7 linked regions of the Homo sapiens genome follow. The protein of the gene in region 2 purifies or fractionates together with the protein of the main gene of each other region. This does not show direct contact. Each region holds a gene or a part of one and is shown on either strand. Other genes may lie near its edges.

Region 1 (3,500 bases), on a different chromosome or scaffold from region 2:
CTACTAAGTCTTGTTTTAGAGGGTAGCCAATCCCCCCACCATACCTCCACCAGGAGCTCTTTAAGGAAACTGCTAATTAACGTTGCTATCTTGTCTCCATCTATGAGATGAAAGTGGCCATCTGCATCATGGTAGTAATAAACAATTCTGTCTGCATCTCCATCAAAAGAACAGCATCTTTCATTGGACTTAATTTCCATTCCTAGCACACAGGATAATTTAACATGCATTTCAGTCTAAGAATTTATTATAAAGAGTTTTAGAATTTTCTCTTAAAATTATCCACCTAAAAATCAATGTCTTAATCTTAAATAGTGTATAATCTTTAAATAGTACATAGTTTATTAGTGGTTTTTACAGGTCAAATTCTTTCACTGCAAAGTGAAAAAAGGAGCATTCAAAATCTATGCTGATATTTGCTATAATACTACCATAAAATTCCACTTTATAAGCAGGTTGGTTTGGCTAGACAGGTGTCCCATAAAGGTTTTTTGAAAGCTACATGTATTTCTGAATGTAATTTACCTAGGACCGTGATCTCCTTTACATAGAAAAAATAATCAGCACTAGATGATGTATGTGCTTTAATTCTAACAGAAATGATTTTTATTTGTTCATACCACCAATAAAAAGAAACACTGATAATTAAGAGCAAAGAATTATAACTTTGAGAGATAACTGGCCTGTGAAATTTACATAAAGTTGCTGAAATCTCAGCAATTGTCACATCAAATTTATTAGAAAATTTGGCTATTCCTTAGCCATGACAGCAGCAGAGTGACAAATTCAACATGAGACAACTAAGAAGTAAAAGGCTTTTGTCAGGAATGGGATCATAAGATTGATGAAAGGACATGATGCAAGCTTCAGGAAAGCAAGGACTATGGTTTTGTTCATACTGTAGTCCCAAAGCCTAGAGCATAGAGAGTAAGAGCTCAGTATTTAAGAAATGGATAAATAAGTGGCAGAACTGAACTGTCAAGTAAATGTCAAAACAAGCAATTCAATGAAAAGGAGCTCAAATTGGTTGACTACACTGACATTTTAAATGCTTACTAAGTAAAGCATAATAACATGAATGAATGAGGCAACTGGATGAAGTCTGTAGAGTTCCAGAATGCATGTCCTATTTTAGGGGAGCAGCATCTATCTGACTGTAGTGGACTAATGCCATGTGTGAACATTTTCTGATTTTGGTAAAGAGATGCTAGAGATTCCAATATATAAGAGAAGTCACGGAATTTTTAAACAGTGGCACACAGACAAACACACAAATGCAGCCAGCCAAACAAAACATATCTGCAAGTCAGGTTTGGCCTAAGCAAATAATTTAGGGTCTATAATGCAGATAAATCCAGAACACCTCTTACTACAACTAAAATCTGAAGAAAAGTCTTCCTCCTATTCTGCACTGAGTGGAAAACACTGATTGCTAACAACTGTATAAGCAGAGTTACATTTGCTTTCCATAGTGTATTTAATTCAGATAAGGTATCTAATAATACTTACTATGCTCCCCTGTAGATCTGTGATTCTCAAAAAGGGATCCCCAGACAAGCACTGGGAACAAAGCCTGCAAACTTGATAGAAATGCAAATTTCTATCATATGCAAATCCTATGCCAGACCTCCAGAAACTCAGAAGTGGAGCCCAGGAATCTGTGTGCTAACAAGCCCTCAAAGTGATTCTGACACATGCCAGTTTGAGAACCACTGCTCTAGAATGCCATTTCCTGACTTTGCTTTCCCCACCTGATTTCCTGTAGACTATGAGGAATGGTGTGATTTACAGGCAGAGAGAGCAGACCATGTTTCAATGGCTCTGAGAGTGGGAAGACTTCTCAATGTCTAAATGTGGCAGAGCCAGGAATAGCTGCAAGATTCTTAACTCACTTTACCACCTTAGTTTATAAGTGAGATTGGCTTCAAAGAGCATTAAAAACAAATTTTTGCAGTGCTAGTACGACATACCCTGTGGAGGTTTCTGATGACTTTTCACAAAGTCAGCTCCACATAAATGATTGAGTTTGCCCTTGGACCCATCATTAAACAGCTGAACTGACAGGCCCTGTGAGAAGTAGTGTTCCATTTCCCTTAGCTTCAGGGCCCCTATGCCATTTGCACAGTCAACCTTAAGTGATCTGTATTCATCTCCACTGCAAGAAGCCTACAAAGGAAAAAGACACATGGAAGAAAAATTTCAAGTTATAAAAATAAATGTGAAATATAAAGCATATATACATATGTGCATATGTAAATATTTAGTTAACTCATTTTAATTTTTAAATTTTATCAATTATAATTGTGTTCATTTTTCAATTTTTAAAATTATAAAACACTAAAGTAAAATTTAAAAACACCTGGAACAACAGAATAGTTTTGCTGATTGAACAACTTATAGCATAGAGCTTTATTAGAATTTAGTCTCAATTAACAGGGTCTCTTAAAAGTAATATTACAAGGGAGCCATTCAAATGCAAGAATAAGCACACAGACAAATGGGCAGTAATGACATGTCATTCTTTTTATAGTATGTGACATCATCATCAGGCAGATTTGTTTTTTTTCTAATTGTCTCCTCTCCCAGCTATCCTCACCCCAAATTATAAGTTCTATGAGAGCAAGGGCTTTTAGTTAATTGTGCCTGGTAAGGACATATACTCAATATTTGTTGATCAAACGAATTATACTTCTCAAATCTCTCTACATTTAACAAGCCAATATACCTAGAAGAAAATCTCAATAGTACATGCCTCAGGTATTAAGCCAACAGCACCTACATTAACTAAGATCAAATTCATCTGAATGAATACTTATGATACCATCGTCAAGACCCCCACCATGTTTGCTTCCCCAAAGTATCTCAGAATGTACTACATAATTTGCCAAGTAAACGCCAATGTAAGTTAGCAGGATACATAGACCAGAACCTTGTGTAGCCCTAGAGAAAAACAAAAAAGGAGATATGCAGCATCTTTGGAAAAGGAAAGAGGAGGCATGACAAACAAGATAATTTGTTCAGTAGACCATGTTACTTTATTCATTTGTTTAACTTTAACCATGTTCAATAAACTTTTCACCTGTTTGGTGAGTTCCACAAAAGCCTTAGAGAGTTTCTGGTAGTAACCTTCTATAGTTGCCTTTCCATATCGGCCACCCGTGTTTCGACAATACACCATGTAGTGCAGCTGGGGTGTTGTTAACAAGCCATAATCTGTCATAGAAATACAAAAAGCAATTCACCGCATTTCTTAACAAAGAGAAAAAAGTTTAAATGCATTCATGTGTAGGAATTTCAGGGTGACAAATCCTTTTGTGTCATCTCAGACATCTTAGAAAACATAAAAATGATCTTAAAAAGAAATATAAATGACTATAAGAAGCCAAAAAACCAATCATTACATATAAACAGGTAACAATGTAAATATAAAGCAATACAGACAAGTAATAATTGAGTTCTGTTTCCAGTAACATTGCAAACTACATAATTCAGATGAATCA
Region 2 (3,500 bases):
AAGATTGCTGGGGTTTTTGCTCTAAAAAATATAAATAATTTTTTTAAGCAAAAATCAGAAAGATCTTCAAAGACATACCTTTTTCATGATCCTCCATAATTTTTTTAAAAAACAATTTCCATCAGAAGAACTAGACTGTCATTAATGAATTTTAGTCTTATAAAATTATGCTGAACAGAAAAATGAGAGAATCAAACATTTTAACTTGGTCATTCATATATCCCTCTAAAAATTATCAACTGTATCTCTTAAAAGGAACTTTATTTATTTATCTTATTATTTCTCAGAGATGGGGTCTCACTTTTTCACCCAGACTGGAGTGCAGTGGCATGATTATATTTCACTGCAGCCTCAAATTCCTGGCATCAAGGGATCCCTCTATCTCATCCTCCTGAGCAGCTGGGATTACAGGCGCATGTCACCACACCTGGCTAATTTTTTTTCAATTTTTTGTAGAGACAAGGTCTCACCATCTTACCCAGACAGGTCAACTCCTGGGCTCAAGCAATCCATCTATCTGATTACGTGCATGAGCCACTGTACCCAGCCAGAACTTTATTTTTCAAGTAAATGCCGCTCAACGAAGAAGACTCAAATTCAAGAAAGGTACTGCAAAAGTTTCTCAATGTTCTAAATTAGAGCAATGATAAAGATCTATTCTCATAAAGGAGAAACAAATTTAGGTTCCTGATTTTTGGTTCAATTTAATTAAACATTAAAAAACATCTTGAAAATGGTACTGAACTTTTTAAATATCTATCATTTTCCATATTTAGTCTTAATTCAAGGATCTATACACAACACAGTCCCAAAATACCTCTGTTTTCCATGACTGTTCTATCGGGTTAAAATGAACTACCTCTAGTCCTAAATATGCCCCCAGTTGTCTGAACTCACTTTTGTTCACATTATTCCCATGCTTTCTGCCAAGAGTAGCCTCCTGTCCTATCTCTGCTTGTCAAAAGTACAATTCGTCCTTTAATGCTCACCTCTCCATGTTTTAATCGCAGGAGTGATGAGTTGAATGGTAAAGGGGACAGAACAAGAGCCTTAGAGTCAGGGAAACTGGAACCTAAACCCACAATCACAGCATGAGACCTGGGACAGGCTCCAAGTGGCTCCTCATCCCTAAAATGGGATATCCTCATTTTGCATGGCTGTGGTAAAGACGACGTTTAGTCCAAAGTCTGACACACAATAGGTGCTCAATAGTGAGCAGCAGGAGTGGTGATGGTAGTAACAAAATGTACAGTTATAAAGCTTTTCTTGACCTCCTCAACCAGATAAAGTCTGTTCCTTTTCTGAACCCCCTTCTCTATGATTTAGGTAACTACAGTTGTGCCTCACTTGGCAGGGATATGTTCTGAAAAATCCATTGTTAGGCAATTTTGTCATTGTGCAAACATCTTAAGAGTGTACTTACACAAACCTAAATGGTATAGCCTATGTAATATATATATATATATACACACACCTAGGCTATAGAGTATATATACCTAGGCTATAGAGTATATATACCTAGGCTATAGGGTATATATACCTAGGCTATAGAGTATATATACCTAGGCTATAGAGTGTATATACCTAGGCTATAGAGTATATATACCTAGGCTATAGAGTATAGCCTGCCGCTCCTAGGCAACGAACCTGCACAGGATGTTACTGTACTGAATGCTGTAGGCAAGTGCAACATAATGGTAAGTATTTGTGCAACTAAATATAAAGAAGAAAAAAGGTACAATAAAAATATAGTCTTGGCCAGGTGTGGTGGCTCACGCCTGTAATCCCAGCACTTTGGGAGGCTGAGTCGGGCGGATCACGAGGTCAGGAGATTGAGACCATCCTGGCTAACATGATGAAACCCCGTCTCTAGTAAAAAAAATACAAAAAATTGGCCTGGCATGGTGGCGGGTGCCTGTAGTCCCAGCTATGTGGGAGGCTGACGCAGGAGAATGGCCTGAACCCGGGAGGCGGAGCTTGCAGTGAGTGGAGATGCGCCACTGTACTCCAGCCTGGGCAACAGAGCGAGACTCCATCTCAAAAAAAAAATAAATAAATATAGTCCTGGCCGGGCATGGTGGCTCATACCTGTAATCCCATTCACTTTGGGAGGCTGAGGCAGAAGGATCACCTGGGGTCAGGAGTTTGAGACCAGCCAACATGGTGAAACCCCGCCTCTACTAAAAATACAAAAATCAGCCAGGCGTGGTGGCGCACACCTTTAATCGCAGCTACTTGGGAGGCTGAGGTAGGAGGATCCCTTGAACCAGGGAGGCGGAGGCTGCAGTGAGCCGAGATCATATCATTGCACTCCAGCCTGGGCAACAAGAGCAAAACTCCATCTCAAAAAACAAAAAATAAAAATAAATAAATAAATAAAAATATGGTCTTATAATCTTATGGGACCACTGTTATATATGGGGCCTGTCATTGACGAAAATGTCATTTTGTAACTTTCTGCCAACAGGAAATGCTCACTTGATACTATTATACATTCCCCATTCTCTTCTCACCCACTACTTAAAAACATTTTTTTCTCATGTGTTTATGTAATCATTTACCCAATACATATTCATTAAGCAACTCTTCCAGTTAGGGCTCCTTCTAAGGCTGATTTGGTTAATCATGCTGTTCAACTTTTTAAAATGTGTATTATTTTTTTCCGCTTATTCATTGGGTTACTAAGAAGGTTGTGTTAACATTCTTCAAGTATGAGTCTGGGTGTCTTGGCTGACACCTGTAATCCCAGCACTTTGGGAGGCTGAGGCGGGAGGATTGCTTGGGCCTGGGAGGTTGAGGCTGTAGTGAGACAGGGTCTTGCTCTGTCACCCCAGGCTGTAGTGCTGTGGTGTGATCTCGGCTCACTGTAACCTCCACCTCCCGAGTTCATGCGATTCTTGTGCGTCAGCCTCCTGAGTAGCTGGTACTACAGGCTGTGTCACCACACGCAGCTAATTTTTGTATTTTTAGTAGAGACGGGGTTTCACCATGTTGGTCAGGCTGGTCTCAAACTCCTGGCCTCAAGTGATCCGCCTGTCTCAGCTTCCCAAAGTGCTGGGATTATGGGCGTGAGCCACCGCACCCAGCCTGATTGTATATTCTTTTTGCTTCTGCTAATTTATGCCTCATAAAATTTAAAGTTATGTTATTACTTTTGGAGAGATTATGTATTGTTGCTTAATAGATTATTTTATTATTATAAAATATCCCACTTTTCCTCTAGTAAAACTTCTTCCCTTGAAGTCTTTAGTCTGATACTAATACTGGTTGAACATCCCTAATTTGACAATCCAAAATCTGAAATGCTCCAAAATCTAAAACTTTTTGAGCACTTACAAGATGATTAAAGGTTAAGTTCTAAGGAAATGCTCACTAAAGCCATTTCAGATTTGGGACTTTTGGATTAGGGAAGCTCAACCAGTAAGTATAATGCAAATATTCCAAAGTAAAAAAAAAAAAAATCTGAAACACTTCTGGTCCCACTTTGGATAATGAGTACT
Region 3 (3,159 bases), on a different chromosome or scaffold from region 2:
CTCAGATCAGGGTCCAGAGTTGCTTTTCTAGTGGTGGGACATGTCTGTGTGCTCCTTGGGATCAGTGTAAAGTAAAACGACCCAGGCAAGGAATCTGCTTCAGGACTTTGGAACACACTGTGAAGCTAACTGATCTAAACTTGAATTACCTATTTATTTATTTATTTATTTATTTATCTTTTGAGAGAGTCTTGCTCTGTTGCCCAGACTGGAGTGCAGTAGCATGATCTCAGCTCGCCGCAACTTCCGCCTTCTGGGTTTAAATGATTCTCTTATCTCAGCCTCCAGAGTAGCTGGGATTACAGGTGCCCGCCACCACTCCCAGCTAATTTTTGTATTTTTAGTAGAGATGGTGTTTCACCATGTTGGCCAGGCTGGTCTCAAACTCCTGACCTCAGGTGATCCACCCACCTCAGCCTCCCAAAGTGCTGGGATTACAGGCATGAGCTACTGCGCTCAGCCTGGATTACCTTTTAAAATTTGGCTTACCACCTGAACTAATTTGCTACAGAAAACTAGAGAGCTTATACTGTGCTGATGAGATATGATGCTTCCTATGAAGGTATGTTAACACATAGAGTGAGTGCTTGAAAGTGTCCAATCTAACTTCAGGGGTAGATTTGAAAGGGCAATTTTTTAAAAAGTGTCCAGTCCCCCTTAGTGGCTTCAGTGTTTATACTGTGGAGCCTTGCCAGACTTCTTAGGATCAAATCACAGTTTCCTGAGTTCCTTTCTATGGGCTTGGCTAGGAGCTCTTCTCATTTGTGGACAGTTTTGACTAACCTGTAATTATATCGTGGGCTTAAAATCTGTCATCAAGATTTTAAGCCAGATGGCATGTTCTACCTTTTTTTTTATTAGCTCAGAGTGAAAAATTTTTCAGATGAATTTTCATAGATTCTTCTCCTAACTCTATGAAATGGTGGTATATGAAAAAGTTCAGTGGTCATAATTAAAAATTGCTGAATGATATTAAGTATGAAACAGACTTCCAATTAATTAGAAGATTTTGCAGAGTTGTTTAACCTTAAAATTCAAGCATTACTTCCTTTTTTGAAGTTGTATTTACAAGCATTTGATGTAATATATTTAAGTATTTCTTAATTTTCCACAAGGGGTTTATGGTATGAAAAGGTCAGCATCCTACTAGGAACAGGGTTTAGCAGAGCACTGATAGTGATTTTTAAAGTGTGGTCCTTTTCCTAGGAGTTTCTAGTTGGGAAATGAAAGAAAATGTTGATAGCAAACACTCGGAAGAAGGGTCAAGTCTTGTATATCTGGACATTGGTATAATACTGCTTGAAACCTGAGGACAAATATTTGTGTTTCACAGGATCATGTTCTAATTGAGCTCACCCAGGCTGGATTGAAAGGCTCCACAGAGGGAAGTGAGAGCTATGAAGAAGATCCCTACTTGGTAGTTAACCCTAACTACTTGCTCGAAGATTGAGATAGTGAAAGTAACTGACCAGAGCTGAGGAACTGTGGCACAGCACCTCGTGGCCTGGAGCCTGGCTGGAGCTCTGCTAGGGACAGAAGTGTTTCTGGAAGTGATGCTTCCAGGATTTGTTTTCAGAAACAAGAATTGAGTTGATGGTCCTATGTGTCACATTCATCACAGGTTTCATACCAACACAGGCTTCAGCACTTCCTTTGGTGTGTTTCCTGTCCCAGTGAAGTTGGAACCAAATAATGTGTAGTCTCTATAACCAATACCTTTGTTTTCATGTGTAAGAAAAGGCCCATTACTTTTAAGGTATGTGCTGTCCTATTGAGCAAATAACTTTTTTTCAATTGCCAGCTACTGCTTTTATTCATCAAAATAAAATAACTTGTTCTGAAGTTGTCTATTGGATTTCTTTCTACTGTACCCTGATTATTACTTCCATCTACTTCTGAATGTGAGACTTTCCCTTTTTGCTTAACCTGGAGTGAAGAGGTAGAACTGTGGTATTATGGATGAGGTTTCTATGAGAAGGAGTCATTAGAGAACTCATATGAAAGCTAGAGGCCTTAGAGATGACTTTCCAAGGTTAATTCCAGTTGTTTTTTTTTTTTTTTAAGTTTATAAAAGTTTATTATACTTTTTTAAAATTACTCTTTAGTAATTTATTTTACTTCTGTGTCCTAAGGGTAATTTCTCAGGATTGTTTTCAAATTGCTTTTTTAGGGGAAATAGGTCATTTGCTATATTACAAGCAATCCCCAAATTTTATGGTCTTCCAGGAAAAGTTATTACCGTTTATGATACTAACAGTTCCTGAGACTTAGCTATGATCAGTATGTTCATGAGGTGGAGCAGTTCCTGTGTTGCAGCTTTTAACAACAGATGGCATTCATTAAATCACAAAGTATGTTAAAGGTCACAAAAGCAAAATAACTGTCTGAGGCTAAGGCCCACGTGGGACAGTCTAATACCCATGAGTACTCAACTTGCCTTGATGTCTGAGCTTTCCAGTGCAATGTGAATTTGAGCAGCCAGAAATCTATTAGTAGAAAGCAAGACAGATTAATATAGGTTAAAACAATGATTTAAATATGTTTCTCCCAATAATTATCTCTTTCCCTGGAATCAACTTGTATGAAACCTTGTCAAAATGTACTCCACAAGTATGTACAATTAAGTATTTTAAAAATAAATGGCAAACATTAAAAACAAGAGTGAATACTCAAGTAGATTTGTCATGGGATTTTTATAAGAAGACTGGTATCAGGTAATGTATCTTTAAAGACTAGGCTGCTCTGCTGACGTAGTAACCATTTTTTATTCCTTTACTTTCCTAATAGCCTTGCTTTCACTTAAGAAAAAAAAAGGCTAGGCACGGTGGCTCACGCCTGTAATCCCAGCACTTTGGGAGGCCAAGGTGAGTAGATCACCTGAGGTCAGGAGTTCGAGACAAGCCTGGCCAACGTGGAGAAAACCTGTCTCTACTAAAAGTACAAAAATTAGCCAGGCATGGTGGTGGGCACCTGTAATCCCAGCTACTCAGGAGGTTGAGGCAGGAGAATTGCTTGAACCCAAGAGGTGGAAGTTGCAGTGAGCTGAGATCATGCCACTGCCCTCCAGCTTGGGCGGCAACAACAACAACAAAAAAAGATTCCCAGGCTTCACCCTCTACAGTCTATGGAAAGTCATGGGAGTCTATTAAAAAAAAACAG
Region 4 (3,500 bases), on a different chromosome or scaffold from region 2:
GCTTGTTTTTTTTTCTTTTTCTTTTTTTTGAGACAGAGTCTTGCTCTGGAGCCCAGACTGGAGTGCAGTGGTGCGATCTCGGCTCATTACAATCTCCGCCTCCTGGGTTCAAGCAGTTCTCCTGCCTCAGCCTCCCAAGTAGCTGGCATTACAGGAATGCGCCAGCACGCCCGGCTAATTGTTTTGTATTTTTAATATATACGGGGTTTCACCATGTTGGCCAGGCTGGTTTCAAACTCCCGACCTCAAGTGATCCACCTGCTTCGGCCTCCCAAAGTGCTGGGATTACAGGCGTGAGCCATTGCACCCGGCCAGTAGAAGCTATTTTTAACTTAATTATATTCATTTCCATATGGCCTGGTAAAAATGAATTTATAATGCCATGCACATCACAGTATAAAATAGTCAACCGCCTTTCCCCTTCTATAGTATCTATCTACTAAAGAAAAACAAAAACAAAAAACAGAACTCACATTAGAAAGCTGCTACATAAGCCACAGCAAGAATTACAGAGAAATACAAAAATAGCCTGTGGAGTGCGCACATAGGTAGAGCTAAAAGTAAGGTACAGAATGCTTTGGCTTAGCCAGGTGTGGTGGGATGCACCTGTAGTCCCAGCTACTGAGGAGGCTGAGGCTGGAGGATCACTTGAGCCCAGGAGGTCAAGGCTAAAAAAGAATGCTTTGTCCTGATAGCATAATTGTGTGAAGGACTCTGTTTTCTGTTACCAACCATGTTTGCTAGGGAAGAAGAATTATACCCATTCTCTACCAAAAAAAAAGAGGCTGACCAAAAAACCTGAAAGGAAAAACAAGAACAACAAACAGCAATAATACCAAACCCTGGGGAAAGGAAGAATTTGATTTCCAGAGGTGACACATTACATTATTTTAAATGTCTAGTTATCACCAAAAAGTTATGAGATGCAAAACATTATGAAATGCATTTTCCCTTATGTATGACATTATGGCTCATACATAAGGGGAAAAAAATCAGTCAATAGAAATTGTCCCTTAAGAAGCCTAGATGTTGGTGTTATTAAACAAAACTTTTTTTTTTTTTTTGAGACGGAATCTCACTGCTGCCCAGGCTGGAGTGCAGTGGCGCGATCTTGACTCACTGCAACTTCCGCCTCCCACGTTCGAGCAATTCTCCTGCGTCAGCCTCCTAAGTGTCTGGGATTACAGGCGCCTGCCACCACGCCCAGCTAATATTTTTATATTTTTAGTAGAGACAGGTTTCACCATGTTGGCCAGGCTGATCTCAAACTCCCAACCTCAAGTGATCCACCTGCCTCAGCCTCCCAAAGTGCTGGGATTACAGGCATGAGCCACTGCGCCCAGTCAAACAAAAACCTTAAATCAGTACAAGAAATATTTTCAAAAAGCTAAAGGAAACCATATCTAAAGAGTTTATAGGAATGATGAGAAGAATGTCTCACCAATAGTGAATACAGATAGAGAAATTAGACTGGAATATTATTTGGCCATAAAAAGTTCCATCTATTTTAGAATACGGATGAACCTTGAAATATGCTAAGTGAAGGAAGCCATGTACTATATGATTCCATTTAGATGATATGTCCAGGATAGACAAATTCATAGAAACAGAAAGTAGATAAATGGTTGCCAGGGGCTGGAAAGAGACGGGAATGAAGACTGCTAATGGGTATTGGGTTTGTTTTTGGGGTGACAAAAATATTCTATTCTGGAATTAGATAGTGATGATCAATGCACAATTTTCTAGATATTCTAAAAATCACTAAATTGTATACTTTAAAAGAGTGAACCTCATGATATCTGAATTTTATATCAGTAAGATTGTTATTAAAAAAATTCATAAGCTGGCTGGGCACGGTGGCTCACACCTGTAATCCCAGAACTTTGGGAGGCCAAGGTGGGCAGATGGCTTGAGCCTAGGAGTTCAAGAGCAGCCCAGGCAACATGGCAAGACCCTGTCTCTACTAAAAATTAAAAAAAAAAAAAAAAAAAAAAAAAAAAAAAAGCCAGACATGGGGTGGTATGCACCTGTGGTCCCAGCCACTTGGGAGGCTGAGGTGGGAGCCCAGGAAGCAGAGGCTGCAGCGAGCTGAGATCATGTTACTGCACTCCAGCCTTGGTAACAAAGTGAGACCTTGTCTCAAAAAAAAAAAAAAATTCACAAGCTAAAAATTACACATACACAAATTTTATCAAGAGTTTTAAGCAAAGAGTATGAGACTAAAATCAATGGAAACTTTTTCAAAATAATCTTTGCTTTCTTTAAGGCCTGGGATCTTGTAGGGGTATAGGGCTCTTTAGCTAGTCTGTCTGTTATGAAAAATCTATATGAAAAGTTTCCCTCTAACTGCTTTACAGAAAAAAGAAAATTCCCCTCATACGGCCTAGAAAAATGTACCTAGATTTTTTAATTTACCATAGAGAGATAAGAACATATTACAACCATGATATAAGAGCAGAACATTCAACACACACACAAAAATGAAAGAATAAAGATAAGAGCCTTGAAATAAAAAACCTGAGTTTTTTTACCTGAGAAATTAAAAACCTACGAGAAGAAAAATGGGAGGAAAAAAACATCAACAGAAAAATTCAAAGATAAAGAAAAGCTCATAGAAAGTAAAGTAAAAAGGCAAAAAGAAGAAAAACAGGAAGGAAAGATTAGCAAATTAGAGGAGCAATCCTGGAGGCCCCATATCCAAATAAGAGAATTCAGGAATAAGGGTCCAAGAAAACGGAAGGAAAGAAATTAACAAATAGTTTCAAGAAGATTTGCCTTACTAAAGGACAAGAGAGCCCAGGACAATGGATGAAAACAGACCAACACCAAGGCACATCACCATGAAATTTCAAAATAGAACAAGAGAAGACTCTACAATTTTCAGAGAAAAATTAGGCCACATATACAGGACTGAGGATCAGAATGGCTTCAGAGTAACACTGGGAGGCAAAGGACAACAGAACGACGCCTTCAAAATTTTGAAGGGAAAAGAACTGTATACTCAGCTAAGACACTTTCAGACATATGCAGTCTCAAAATATTACCTCCCAACTGACCCTTTTCCAAGAAGCTACCAGAGGATGTATTAGACCAAGCAACAGGAGAGAGGTAAAGGGCAATCTCCAGGGTAGAGAAGTCAGACAACAATTGTCATTAAACAGGCATAAAGGACAACTGGTCCAAACCAAAGCAGGTCAGAAGGTGCTGGGAAAAACTTAAGGAAAATGAAACCGAGAGAACACCAGATGCAACTAAGGTATAACTGAGAGAAAACGAACAGATCTAATGCATCTGAAGAGCAGTTTAGACAATCAAGAGAAAGTGGGAGGTTGAGTTCATAATATATGCACAGAAAACCAGGCAAATGAAAAAACAAGACGTTATAACAACCACCACTAAAAGAAGTGGTACAAGAAAGGAAAAGCAATCACAGCTTACCACTTGGCTCTTTGTGAATAGTGTTTACATAGCCATAATCATATAAACACTGAATACTGATC
Region 5 (3,500 bases), on a different chromosome or scaffold from region 2:
TTCTGAGAGGCATGGACATGACTAATTACAAAAGGTTGTTATAGGCATAAAATTTCAGGTCTATTTATATAATTACATAGTTCATTAATACAGAGAAGGTAAAGAAATGAATGCAGGCTTAAAAATTTGGAAATTTCTGCATTTTAAAAGAATCTTTTTGTAGGACTATTAAGGCTCAATTTATTGAAAAATTGTAATATTTCTTTTGTGTTTTAGTATTGTGCATTATTTAAAAATGAGATATTAAGACTTAGGAGAAATGGGGAAGCATTAGGATGAGAAATGCTGAGATTAGGAACTCTGCCATATGCAGGGTTTTTGTTGTTGTTGTTGTTTTGGTTTTTTTTGTTTGTTTTTTTGAGATGGAGTCTTTTCTGTCGCCAGGCTGTAGTGCAGGGGCGCCATCTCAGCTCACTTCAACCTCCGCCTCCCAGGTTCAAGCAACTCCCTTGCCTCAGCCTCCCAAGTAGCTGGGATTACAGGCACACACCACCACGCCTGGCTAATTTTTTGTATTTTAGTCAAGACGGGGTTTCACCATGTTCGCCAGCATGGTCTCGATCTTCTAACCTCGTGATCCACCCGCCTGGGCCTCCCAGAGTGCTGGGATTACAGGCCAGCACCGCATCCACCCATGCAGGGTTTTTTGTTTGTTTGTTTTAAAAAAAGGAGACTAGGAGCTCTTTTATTAAAAAAAGGAGGAGGCATTTGTGTGTCTTAATTACTAGGATAGTGCCTGTTACTTACTAGCCTCGGTTTAGTGAAAAGTTATTAATGAATGCCAATTCAAATAAAACCTTCAGAAGAAAAATGAAGAAACATTCCTTGGGACAGTACCTTAGAACAGTGCTTCTCATCACTTCCTCCCTAAAAGAAACACTTCTGGAGTGTACTGAGACTTTTTGCCAGAAAACATTTGTACCAGTGTATATAGTTATTTTAAGGACCTCTAGGGATGCATGTTCCATAAAGGAATAAAGAGTAAACCTTATAATGTAGCCAATAGATAGGGGATTCGGTTGATACCAGAGTGAAAGCTTTAATGTGGATGAACCATGTGACACTCCATTTGTGAATATTAATATTGAATATTTGGTAGGTTGAGGTAACTAAGTTCTTTTCTTTTTTTTTTTTTTTTTTAGAGATAGGGTCTCGCTCTGTCACCCACGCTGGAGTGCAGTGGCACCACCTCAACTCACTGCAGCTTCAACCTCCTGGGCTCAAGCGATTTTCTTCCCACCTCAGCCCCCAGAGTAGCTGGGACTACAGGTGCGCACCACCACACTCAGCTAATTTTTTTTATAGAGATGGGTATCACCATGTTTCCCAGGCTGGTCTCAAACTCTTGATTTCCGGCAATCTGCCCACCTTGGCCTCCCAAAGTGCTGGGATTACAGGCTTGAGCCACTGTGCCCAGCCACTTCTTTTATTTTCATATTCTTCAACCACCAGTTGATTTAAAATATTCCAAGGAATCAAGAGCTAAAGAAAATATCATTATCTTTCTATATATAATAGTTAATATTAATGCTTACTGTGAGCTTGATTTTTGTTTATCCTTACAACTTTAGTAAAAGAGGATAATAATAATCTCGTTTACAGTTGAAGAAACTGAGATTTGGAGAGATTAAGTACTTGTTTAAGGTCAGTTAGATAGTAGGTCTGGGACTTATAGGATCTCTTTACCCCCAGAACATGAACTCTTGACCACCCAGCTATGTCACTTCTCCAGGGTTTAGACTAGTGGATGTTAAGATTCAGGCCTTAAATTTCATTTCCCTCTAAAATTAGGCTTATAGAATATTTCATGCTAGAAGATGCTTTTAATAATTCCTGAGGACTACAAAAAGTTTAAGATCTGGTGCTTACTTTCCCTAAATCTACATGCTTGTTGAATAGTTAAGACACTATTGTAAAAAGATGAATAACCCAGGGCAATATGTAATTGTCAGGCATTAAGTGGCAGAGAATATTAAAGCAAGAAGATTCATGTCCATGGAGAGATTTGAGCCAGGTGTTGAAAATGAAACTCTAGATAGAAAGTGAAAATGTAAAGCACACGATACAAAACTTCACTGGGGAAGAGGGAATAGATAACCTGACTGTAGCTGGATGGATATTGTCCACAGAACTCCTTAAGAATAGGGACCTTGTCTTACTAAACGGAATCGTTCTCTTTGTCTGGCTCTGGGCCATGTGGGTTCTCAGTAGGTGCTTGTTTAAGTAGAATTGGGTTTTATTTCCATTATATAGGGATTTTAGGAACCTCCAGAAAACCATTGTAAAATCAACTAAACTGTTTGTTTAAATACCACTTGATAGAATCTTCTTAAAATAATTCACCCCATTTTGGAATGCAAGTTTTTCCCAATTTGATAAAGGTTTATATTACCAGATTTATTTATTTAAGTGTTTTGGATATTGGACGGTATTTTCTTTTGGAAACTGTTTAAAATGCTTGTAAAAAAAACTCAAGCCTTTTAAGGAATCAGGTTTTCAGAGCTGGAAGGAACCTTAGAGATCCTATCATATAGCTGAAAGTACAGTGTGGGTGGGCATTTACAATAACATAACAGGAAATAGTGAAATTATCTTAAGTACTTGTGCTTGGAGAAAAGCAGGTTTAATCAGAAGAAATAGATTTGCAGAGATTAAGAAGGTGATTTCTGGGCACTTTTAAAAATACTTAGAAGGTTGATGGCAGTAACTTTCTTGATTTTACTTTGATGTTTTTTTCTTGATATATACTATGCTAACTGGTTATCAGCAGTGATTAGGGCTCACCACTGAGAAAGAGGAGGAAGGGACCTCACAGAGAAAACTGGGAAGAAAGATTAGTAAAAATTAGATTTCTTTACATGAACAATATTAAGACTATTCCAATTTAGGTCTTGTGTGGTGGCTCACGACTGTAATTCCAGCACTTTGGGAGGCCAAGGCAGGCAGATCATCTGAGGTCAGGAGTTCATGACCAGCCTGGACAACATGGTGAAACCCCATCTCTACTAAAAATACAAAAATTAGCCGGGCATGGTGGTGCATACCTGTAATCCCAGCTACTCGCGAGGCTGAGGCAGCAGAATTGCTTGAACCTGCGAGGCAGAGGTTGCGTGAGCAGAGATTGCACCACTGCACTGTGGCCTGGGTGACAGAGGGAGACTGTCTCAAAAAGAAAAAAAAAAAAACTGTTCCAACTTAATTCATAGCACTCTAAGGAATAACTGAGGAAAAGTGAAATAGCAGTGGTGTATGTGCAGGATCTCTGAAAGGTAATTGGTGTACTGAGTGATAAAATTGACCATATCAACTAGATTTCTGGTTGGAAGCAAGAGTAAAATTGTGTTTATGTATGATGGGAGAGGCTGTGGTGAGAGTTATTGTGAGTGCAAGGTATCTATCGATCTAGTGCATACCTAGTGTAAGTTCCAGACTGTGTTACTCATCACTGTGTTTGCAGAGTAGAGTTCCTTATGTTGGTGCCCTCAAAATACTTGTTGAAT
Region 6 (3,500 bases), on a different chromosome or scaffold from region 2:
AACTCCGCCTTCTGACACGGGACCACTGGAGCGCGGGGAGCATGCATCAAGGGTCCGTGGCAGTGAGAAGTCCCCACACACGCTCGCTCTGTGAACTGGCTTAGATGCTTCTCTGTAGCCCCATTTGGTTGCCAAGCGCCGGAGAACCTGGGTTCGGGTAAAAATTTCAGGTCCTCCAACGCCTCCCCCAAGGATAATTGGGGTGATTGTAGAAAAAAATAATTAATAAAAAAAAATGTAAGTTACATCCAAAGGGTCAGACTGCATCTATTGCCCAGACTGGATTAATTTCAAGGGAGAAAGGGGAGATTAAAAAAAAAAAATTAGCTGTTGTTACAGGGCTTGTGAAGAAGGGGCATTATGTCTGTTTCTTATTACAATAAAGGCTCCTCGGTCTTTACTGACCCCTAAAGTCCTGAATCACACCAGAAAGACGAGAAGGCACTTATCACAGGGGGCAGCTTGAGTCTCCGGCTAGGGTCGTTGACGCAACAAAGGAAAAAAGAATTTACAGGGCCAGGGTGGATGTAAGACAGGGGGTGGGGAATTCTACTCCATGGTATCTTCAGAGCTAGGATAATGCTCCTTATGCAATCCCACTGCATATGACCATGGCAGTAGAACAAGTTCAATTACTACACTGGATGCGTTAAGTGTGCTTTCCTAGCAGAAAGCACCAGGGTGGAGTCAACAGTTCACATGCTAATACTTGGAAGTATTTCTAGAAGGGGGTGCTCAATAGAGGGCAGACATGATGCAAGTTCTTCATACTAGAAAGGTGTCCTGTGTGTGCATGCACAGCTGGATGGGGGCACACAGGAGCAAGCGCAGAATTTGGTTTTCTCCAGTCAAGTCTACCCTGATGTTATCTGTGCACTGCCACAATATTATCTTGCTGCCTTTCTAGAAGATGCTGTAGCAGGGTAAGAAATCCAAAGTTAATGTTTTGGCCAGCTGACTGGGATAAGAACCTTTTGTCTGAAAGGCCCTATGACATGGCCTGAATCGCCAATCACTAATAAGGAGGGACTAAGTCTAGCCAAGAGGCTCATCTAGAGCTGCTTCCGGCCAATGTAGATTTGTCTCGGCCATGTATTGAGTGATCTGCAGCTGATATCAAAGCTTCTGTTAAAAAACAAAACAAAATAAATTCAATACTTTTAGTTTAACAGTGTGTAGTTCAAACAAAAAAAAGGAAAAATAAAAAATATCCCAGTGGAAAGGGAAGTGGTAGCCTAAGGATGACTATTATAAAATTATGGGAATCAAAGAACTTACCTGAAGGGAACATTTAAGAGACCATCGCTTGACAGGAAGTGAAAAAAGGCCCTGGTGACTCAGCTGAAAATTGCACCCCTGTCTATGAGGTAGAAGCCTTCACTTTCCAGGATCTTGTAGGACATTGGTCAGAATTCTGCCATTTTGGTGGGTTTTCTCCCTCTTTTGATTTTTTACAAGGCAGCAAACAAAGGGGCCCAAAACAAGCACTGATGTTGAGTAACAAGAAACAGACTCGGGTACCTTCCCTCTCCCCTCACTTGGATGAGTGGGGGTGGGATGAAGAGTCTAAGTTATTCTAATGGTAGCCAATTAATTTGGTTTAGAAATGCAAGGGGACATGGAGCAAATATTTTTAATTGTCTAGGCAAGATGCACAAAGAAGCTACCAGCACATAGCAAGCCTGTTTAAAAACCAACCATTACTGAAAGCTTTATGTAAACTGCTTTCAGGCCTCCGCCTCCTCTCCCAACAGGCCCAAGTTCTAATGGCACAGATCCAGACATGACCTCAGAGGGCAGAGGGGCAGAGAGAACTTTCCATCATGGCTGCAGGTCACCACCTCTGAAGGAGGGAATGATGAGTGCAATGCATAAAAAGGCTTCATTACTTTTGTATTCCAGTTTGAATACCTGTTCTCTTTATATTATATAGTATAAGGGAATAATATGGTACTTCTCACCTTACTGGGCAAATTAAATACCTGTCAATAATTTAAGGATTTCCTTGTAATACAAATAATCTTTTTTTTTAAAATATAGAAGTTCTGAGTTAGACCTGTTTAGCTCAGAATAGTGGGCTAAACTACCATAAAATTCTCTGTATATCTTAAATGGTAATGGGTCAAAAACTCCAGAAAATCATCAGTTGATAACACACCTACAGATAAGTGCATGGGTAGGAGGGGATAGCCAAGTGCCCATGATAATTTGACCTCAGTAAATTAAACTGGGCAATACACATATTTGCTATTCTGATACTGCATTAGACTTATAAAATTCCATCTAATAAGCATTCATAAAACTGGACCTCTCTGTATATATCTAGCTTAGACAGGGATAGGGAAAAGAATAACTGAAGAAACTAGCTTACAATAGCTAGGTTTCGTCAGGCTTATTCTATCCAGCCAGAAACCACCACCAGAGAGAAGCTGAGCCATTCAGCTGTCTGTCTCCTCTCCCTCTGTTTGAATAGTCATGCCTAGGCCTTGCTGCAGACCAAAGCCTGTTTGTTAGGAGCAGGAAGAGACTTTGAAAATAAAAGGGGGGTGGGGGAAACCAAAGTTAAAAAAAATTGTGGGGGGGGCAGGGAATGGGGAGAATCACGCTTTGTATTTTTTTCTTTCAAATATTTATCTAACCACATGTATATACAACTTTCTAAACTTGAAGTCTGAATTTGAAATGACGAATCTTTAAACCAAAAGATACATATACCATTGACAGAGACACCTATCTATACAAACCTAGCCCACGGGAGGCTACATCTGTAGCAATAAGGATGGGTGCCTTTCCAGAACGGAACTCTGTAAAAACAAACAATAATCATCATCAAATAAGCATTCCTTGCTATCTGATCTGTTTACATAACCATGTTAAAATTTCAAATAATGGTGCCAGAAAATCCCAAGCTCTTGTAATGACTGACAGTGATTCTTTTGAAAATCTTTATTACACTCATATTCAGCAGCACAATAGTTACCTCTACTAATAATGAAATACCGTTAAGAGAGTGTGGCAATTTGTTACATAATTAATATGAGCTAGATTTTTTTCCCCTTAAAGTTATTTCCCAAATGAGACACAACCAAAAGTTGGGGGTCAGTAGGAAACAAGTTCAAAAGATGTAGAATGAAAAGAACTGAATTTCCCCCCAAAAGGTATGCATATTATTTATTTTTCTTTCTTTTTTTTGAGATGGAGTTTCGCTCTTATTGCCGAGGCTGGAGTGCAGTGGCGCAATCTCAGCTCACCGCAACCTCCACCTCCCGGGTTCAAGCGATTCTCCTGCCTCAGTCTCCCAAATAGCTGGGATTACAGGCATATGCCACCATGCCCGGCTAATTTTGTATTTTTAGTAGAGACGGGGTTTCTCCATGTTGGTCAGGCTGGTCTCGAACTCCCAACCTCAGGTGATCCGCCCACCTCAGCCTCCCAAAGTGCTGGGATTACAGGCGTGAGCCACTGTGTCCGGCCACATTTTATTTCTTAAACAAAATATG
Region 7 (3,500 bases), on a different chromosome or scaffold from region 2:
GTGTCTCACTCATCGAGAAAACTGGTGTCTGGCCTGCAGCGAGCACGTGGTGTCATTTTGTTGCTGAATCTCTGTTAAGTGCTTGCTACCGAAGGGTCGTGAGAGGGGCAGAGGACAGTGTTTGCCAAGCTCTCATCCTGTGCCAGGGCCAATGAGAGGGGACACACAGGGGCCTTTCCTTCCTAATGCTGCTGTGCCTCCACTAACAAGAGCCCAGGTTTTGCCCCTGGTGACACCGTCCCTCCCACCGCACCCCCGCAGCCACAGCCAACTGACCAAGGGCAGCCAGTCAGCTCCTTCCTTCCTCCTCCAGCTTCAGCACTGACTCTGGGCTCCCACAAGCCCCTGCGCTTCCTCTGTCCCACCCGGGTCTCTCCTCGCAGATCATCACTCCCTGTCCCTCTCTGGCTACTTGCACAACCCGAAGCCAGAGCCGCTAACGACGCTTGCTTCTTCCTGTAAGTCACACATGTACGCGGTTGTCACCCAAAGAGCACAAACGCAGTCAAAGTCTTCCTCACACAAAACCCCCTGCACACGCTCACGGCTGCACCACTCACAAAAGGTGGAAGCAACCCTAATGTCCATCCACTGATGAAGGGATACGTCAGACGTGTTCTAGCCATACAGCGGAAAAGTACTCAGCAAAAAAGGGACACAGCACTGACGAAAGGCCGCCACACACATGAGCGATGAACACATTCAGAGAAAGCAGCCAGACACAAGAGGCTGCATATTCCAAGATCCCATTTATAGGAAATGCCCAGAATAGGCAGATCCATGGAGACAGAAAGTTAGATGAGTGGCTGCCAGGGGTGGGGGCAGATGGGCTGAATGCAGGGAGAGAGCTAAAGGATTTAGGCTTTTTGGGGTGATGAGAGAGTTCTAAAATTGACTGTGGTGATGGTTGCCTAACTCTGAACATACTAAATACCATTGAACTATATATACTTTAAATGGGTGAATTGTATAGTATGTGAATTATAGCTCAATAAAGCAGTTAGCAAATGAAGTCTTCTACCCTGTCCCCCAGGAAACCAGTTTCTTAGCTCTCCTTATAGAATGATGCATTAAAAGCAAATAGATTTATACATATGCCCTGCATTACAATAAAAAAGACGTCTACATACTCCCTGCATTACAATAAAAAAGACGTCTACATACTCCCTGCATTAAAAGCAAAAAGATTTCTACATACTCTTCTGCCCACCTTGTAAATTTGTTACTATTTTCATTTTATATATTTCCCCCTTAATATTTTGAAAAGTTTCAAACCTGCAGAGAAGGTACAAATTGAGTACAGTGAACAGCCATGGCCCTTTGCCTAGATTCACTGGCTGTTGGCATGACACCTCATTTGCTTTATGCTTTATCCAAGCACATGCATATACCTGTACCTTTTGTCCTTTTTTTGGCTGAACTATTTGAAAGTTGTGGTCATCATGATACTTCACCTCTGAAAACTCCAGCAGTTAACTCTTTTTTTTTTTTTTTTTTTTTTTTTGAGACGGAGTCTTGCTCTGTCACCCAGGCTGGAGTACAGTGGTGCGACCTTGGCTCACTGCAACCTCTGCCTCCCAGGTTCAAGCGATTCTCCTATTGCAGCTTCCTGAGTAGCTGGGACTATAGGCGCGCACCACCACATCTGGCTAATTTTTGTATTTTTAGTAAAGATGGGGTTTCACCATCTTTGCCAGGCTGCTCTTGAACTCCTGACCTTATGATCTACGTGCCTCTGCCTCCCAGAGTGCTGGGATTACAGGCATGAGCCACCGCACCTGGCCTCTTTTTTTTTTTTTGGTACAGTATTTTACTCTGTCATGCAGGTTGTAGTGCAGTGGGGTGGTCACAGCTCACTGCAGCCTCGACCTCCCCAGGCTCAGCTGATCCTCAGCCTCTCGAGTAGCTGGGACTAAAGGTGTGTGCCACCACACCCTGCTAATTTTTATATTGTTTATAGAGACAGGGTGTCACCATGTTGCCTAGGCTGATCTCAAACTCCTGGGTTCAAGCAATCCCCCTGCCTCGGCCTCCAAATGTCCTGGGATTACAGCCGTGAGCCACCGTACCTGGCCTCCAGCAGTCAGCTCTTAAGAACAGGGATGTCCGCCTGCAGAACTACAGTGTCATTGTCATCATCATGCAGTTTAACATGAGACAGTGACGTTATTGAATAGACGATTCTTATTTAGATCTGCCACGTGTCCCTGTAATATTCTTCAAGGCTATAAATAATTTCTTATTTTTTTTTTTTTTCCAAGACTGAGTCTTGCTCTATCGCCCAGGCTGGAGTGCAGTGGCACTATCTCGGCTCACTGCAACCTCTGCCTCCTGGGTTCAAGCCATTCTCTTGCCTCAGCCTCCCGAATAGCTGGAATTACAGGCATGCACCACCACGCCCGGCTAATTTTTTTGTATTTTTTGTAGAGACGGGGTTTCATTTTGGCCAGGCTGGTCTCGAACCCCTGACCTCAGGTGATCCGCCCGCCTTGGGCTCCCAAAGTGCTAGGATTACAGGCGTGAGCCACCATGTCCAGCCTGTTTTTTTTTTTGTTTTTTGTTTTGTTTTTTTTTTCTTTTTTGAAACAGAGCCTCATTGTCACCCAGGCTGGAGTGCAGTGGTGCGATCTTGGCTCACTGCAACCTCCACCTCCCAGGTTCAATCAATTCTCCTGCCTCAGCCTCCCGAGTAGCTAGGATTACAGGCGCCTGGCACCACGCCCAGCTAATTTTTATATTTTTAGTAGAGACAGGGTTTCACCATGTTGGCCAGGCTGGTCTCAAACTCTTGACCTCAGGTAATCCACCCACCTCAGCCTCTCATAGTGTTGGGATTACAGGTGTGAGCCACTGCGCCTGGCCAATAATTTCTTTTTTTCTTTTCTTTTCTTTTTTTTTTTTCAAGTTACATGAAGTAAATTTATTATTTACAGCTAGGCAACAAGGGAAAACCGAAGCATAGGATTCATTGTGAGCCAATCTCCCGAGACTCAGGAAGGTTGCCCCGGGAGGATGGAGTCTCATTTGTGTGTACCCCATTTGTACCTGGAAAGCAGACCATCTTGGGTTTTATATTCTGGAGGCAACATGACATGTTGGGCTAAAATGATGAAGGACATCCTGTTTCTAGGAGGGACTGGAACAGAGCCTGGGCTGTTTCAGCCAGTCCCTCCTTATCTCAGGATATTGCATTCCTAGCACATTCTACAGTTATTCTTGAGAACTATTTTTTTTTTTTTTTTAGTATTTATTGATCATTCTTGGGTGTTTCTTGGAGAGGGGGATTTGGCAGGGTCATAGGACAATAGTGGAGGGAAGGTCAGCAGATAAACAAGTGAACAAAAGTCTCTGGTTTTCCTAGGCAGAGGGCCCTGCGGCCTTCCGCAGTGTTTGTGTCCCTGGGTACTTGAGATTAGGGAGTGGTGATGACTCTTAAGGAGCATGCTGCCTTCAAGCATCTGTTTAACAAAGCACATCTTGCACCGCCCTTAATCCATTTA

What was found.
Region 1: the proteins of SPRTN (region 2) and PGM3 purify together in Homo sapiens (affinity purification with mass spectrometry, with the first as the bait; 2 studies listed by BioGRID). This does not show direct contact.
Region 3: the proteins of SPRTN (region 2) and MCM6 purify together in Homo sapiens (affinity purification with western blotting; 2 studies listed by BioGRID, with this or other methods). This does not show direct contact.
Region 4: the proteins of SPRTN (region 2) and PSMC2 purify together in Homo sapiens (affinity purification with mass spectrometry, with the first as the bait; 2 studies listed by BioGRID). This does not show direct contact.
Region 5: the proteins of SPRTN (region 2) and CAND1 purify together in Homo sapiens (affinity purification with mass spectrometry, with the first as the bait; 2 studies listed by BioGRID). This does not show direct contact.
Region 6: the proteins of SPRTN (region 2) and DDX17 purify together in Homo sapiens (affinity purification with mass spectrometry, with the first as the bait; 2 studies listed by BioGRID). This does not show direct contact.
Region 7: the proteins of SPRTN (region 2) and POLD1 purify together in Homo sapiens (affinity purification with western blotting; 2 studies listed by BioGRID, with this or other methods). This does not show direct contact.

What each region holds. Positions count from the first base shown.
Region 1 is NC_000006.12:83,179,766-83,183,265, forward strand, and holds part of PGM3 (phosphoacetylglucosamine mutase), read right to left. Parts: intron 3,214-3,500; coding exon 3,080-3,213; intron 2,167-3,079; coding exon 1,971-2,166; intron 203-1,970; coding exon 45-202; intron 1-44. UniProt on the Homo sapiens protein: Catalyzes the conversion of GlcNAc-6-P into GlcNAc-1-P during the synthesis of uridine diphosphate/UDP-GlcNAc, a sugar nucleotide critical to multiple glycosylation pathways including protein N- and O-glycosylation.
Region 2 is NC_000001.11:231,341,293-231,344,792, reverse strand, and holds part of SPRTN (DNA-dependent metalloprotease SPRTN), read right to left. Parts: intron 1-3,500. UniProt on the Homo sapiens protein: DNA-dependent metalloendopeptidase that mediates the proteolytic cleavage of covalent DNA-protein cross-links (DPCs) during DNA synthesis, thereby playing a key role in maintaining genomic integrity.
Region 3 is NC_000002.12:135,839,126-135,842,284, reverse strand, and holds the end of MCM6 (DNA replication licensing factor MCM6), read left to right. Parts: intron 1-1,333; coding exon 1,334-1,450; 3' UTR 1,451-2,659; downstream 2,660-3,159. UniProt on the Homo sapiens protein: Acts as a component of the MCM2-7 complex (MCM complex) which is the replicative helicase essential for 'once per cell cycle' DNA replication initiation and elongation in eukaryotic cells.
Region 4 is NC_000007.14:103,357,643-103,361,142, reverse strand, and holds part of PSMC2 (26S proteasome regulatory subunit 7), read right to left. Parts: intron 1-3,500. UniProt on the Homo sapiens protein: Component of the 26S proteasome, a multiprotein complex involved in the ATP-dependent degradation of ubiquitinated proteins.
Region 5 is NC_000012.12:67,272,358-67,275,857, forward strand, and holds part of CAND1 (cullin-associated NEDD8-dissociated protein 1), read left to right. Parts: intron 1-1,142; exon of another isoform or gene 1,143-1,269; intron 1,270-3,500. UniProt on the Homo sapiens protein: Key assembly factor of SCF (SKP1-CUL1-F-box protein) E3 ubiquitin ligase complexes that promotes the exchange of the substrate-recognition F-box subunit in SCF complexes, thereby playing a key role in the cellular repertoire of SCF complexes.
Region 6 is NC_000022.11:38,489,312-38,492,811, forward strand, and holds part of DDX17 (probable ATP-dependent RNA helicase DDX17 isoform 1 precursor), read right to left. Parts: intron 2,805-3,500; coding exon 2,745-2,804; intron 1-2,744. UniProt on the Homo sapiens protein: As an RNA helicase, unwinds RNA and alters RNA structures through ATP binding and hydrolysis.
Region 7 is NC_000019.10:50,387,347-50,390,846, forward strand, and holds part of POLD1 (DNA polymerase delta catalytic subunit), read left to right. Parts: intron 1-313; exon of another isoform or gene 314-458; intron 459-3,500. UniProt on the Homo sapiens protein: As the catalytic component of the trimeric (Pol-delta3 complex) and tetrameric DNA polymerase delta complexes (Pol-delta4 complex), plays a crucial role in high fidelity genome replication, including in lagging strand synthesis, and repair.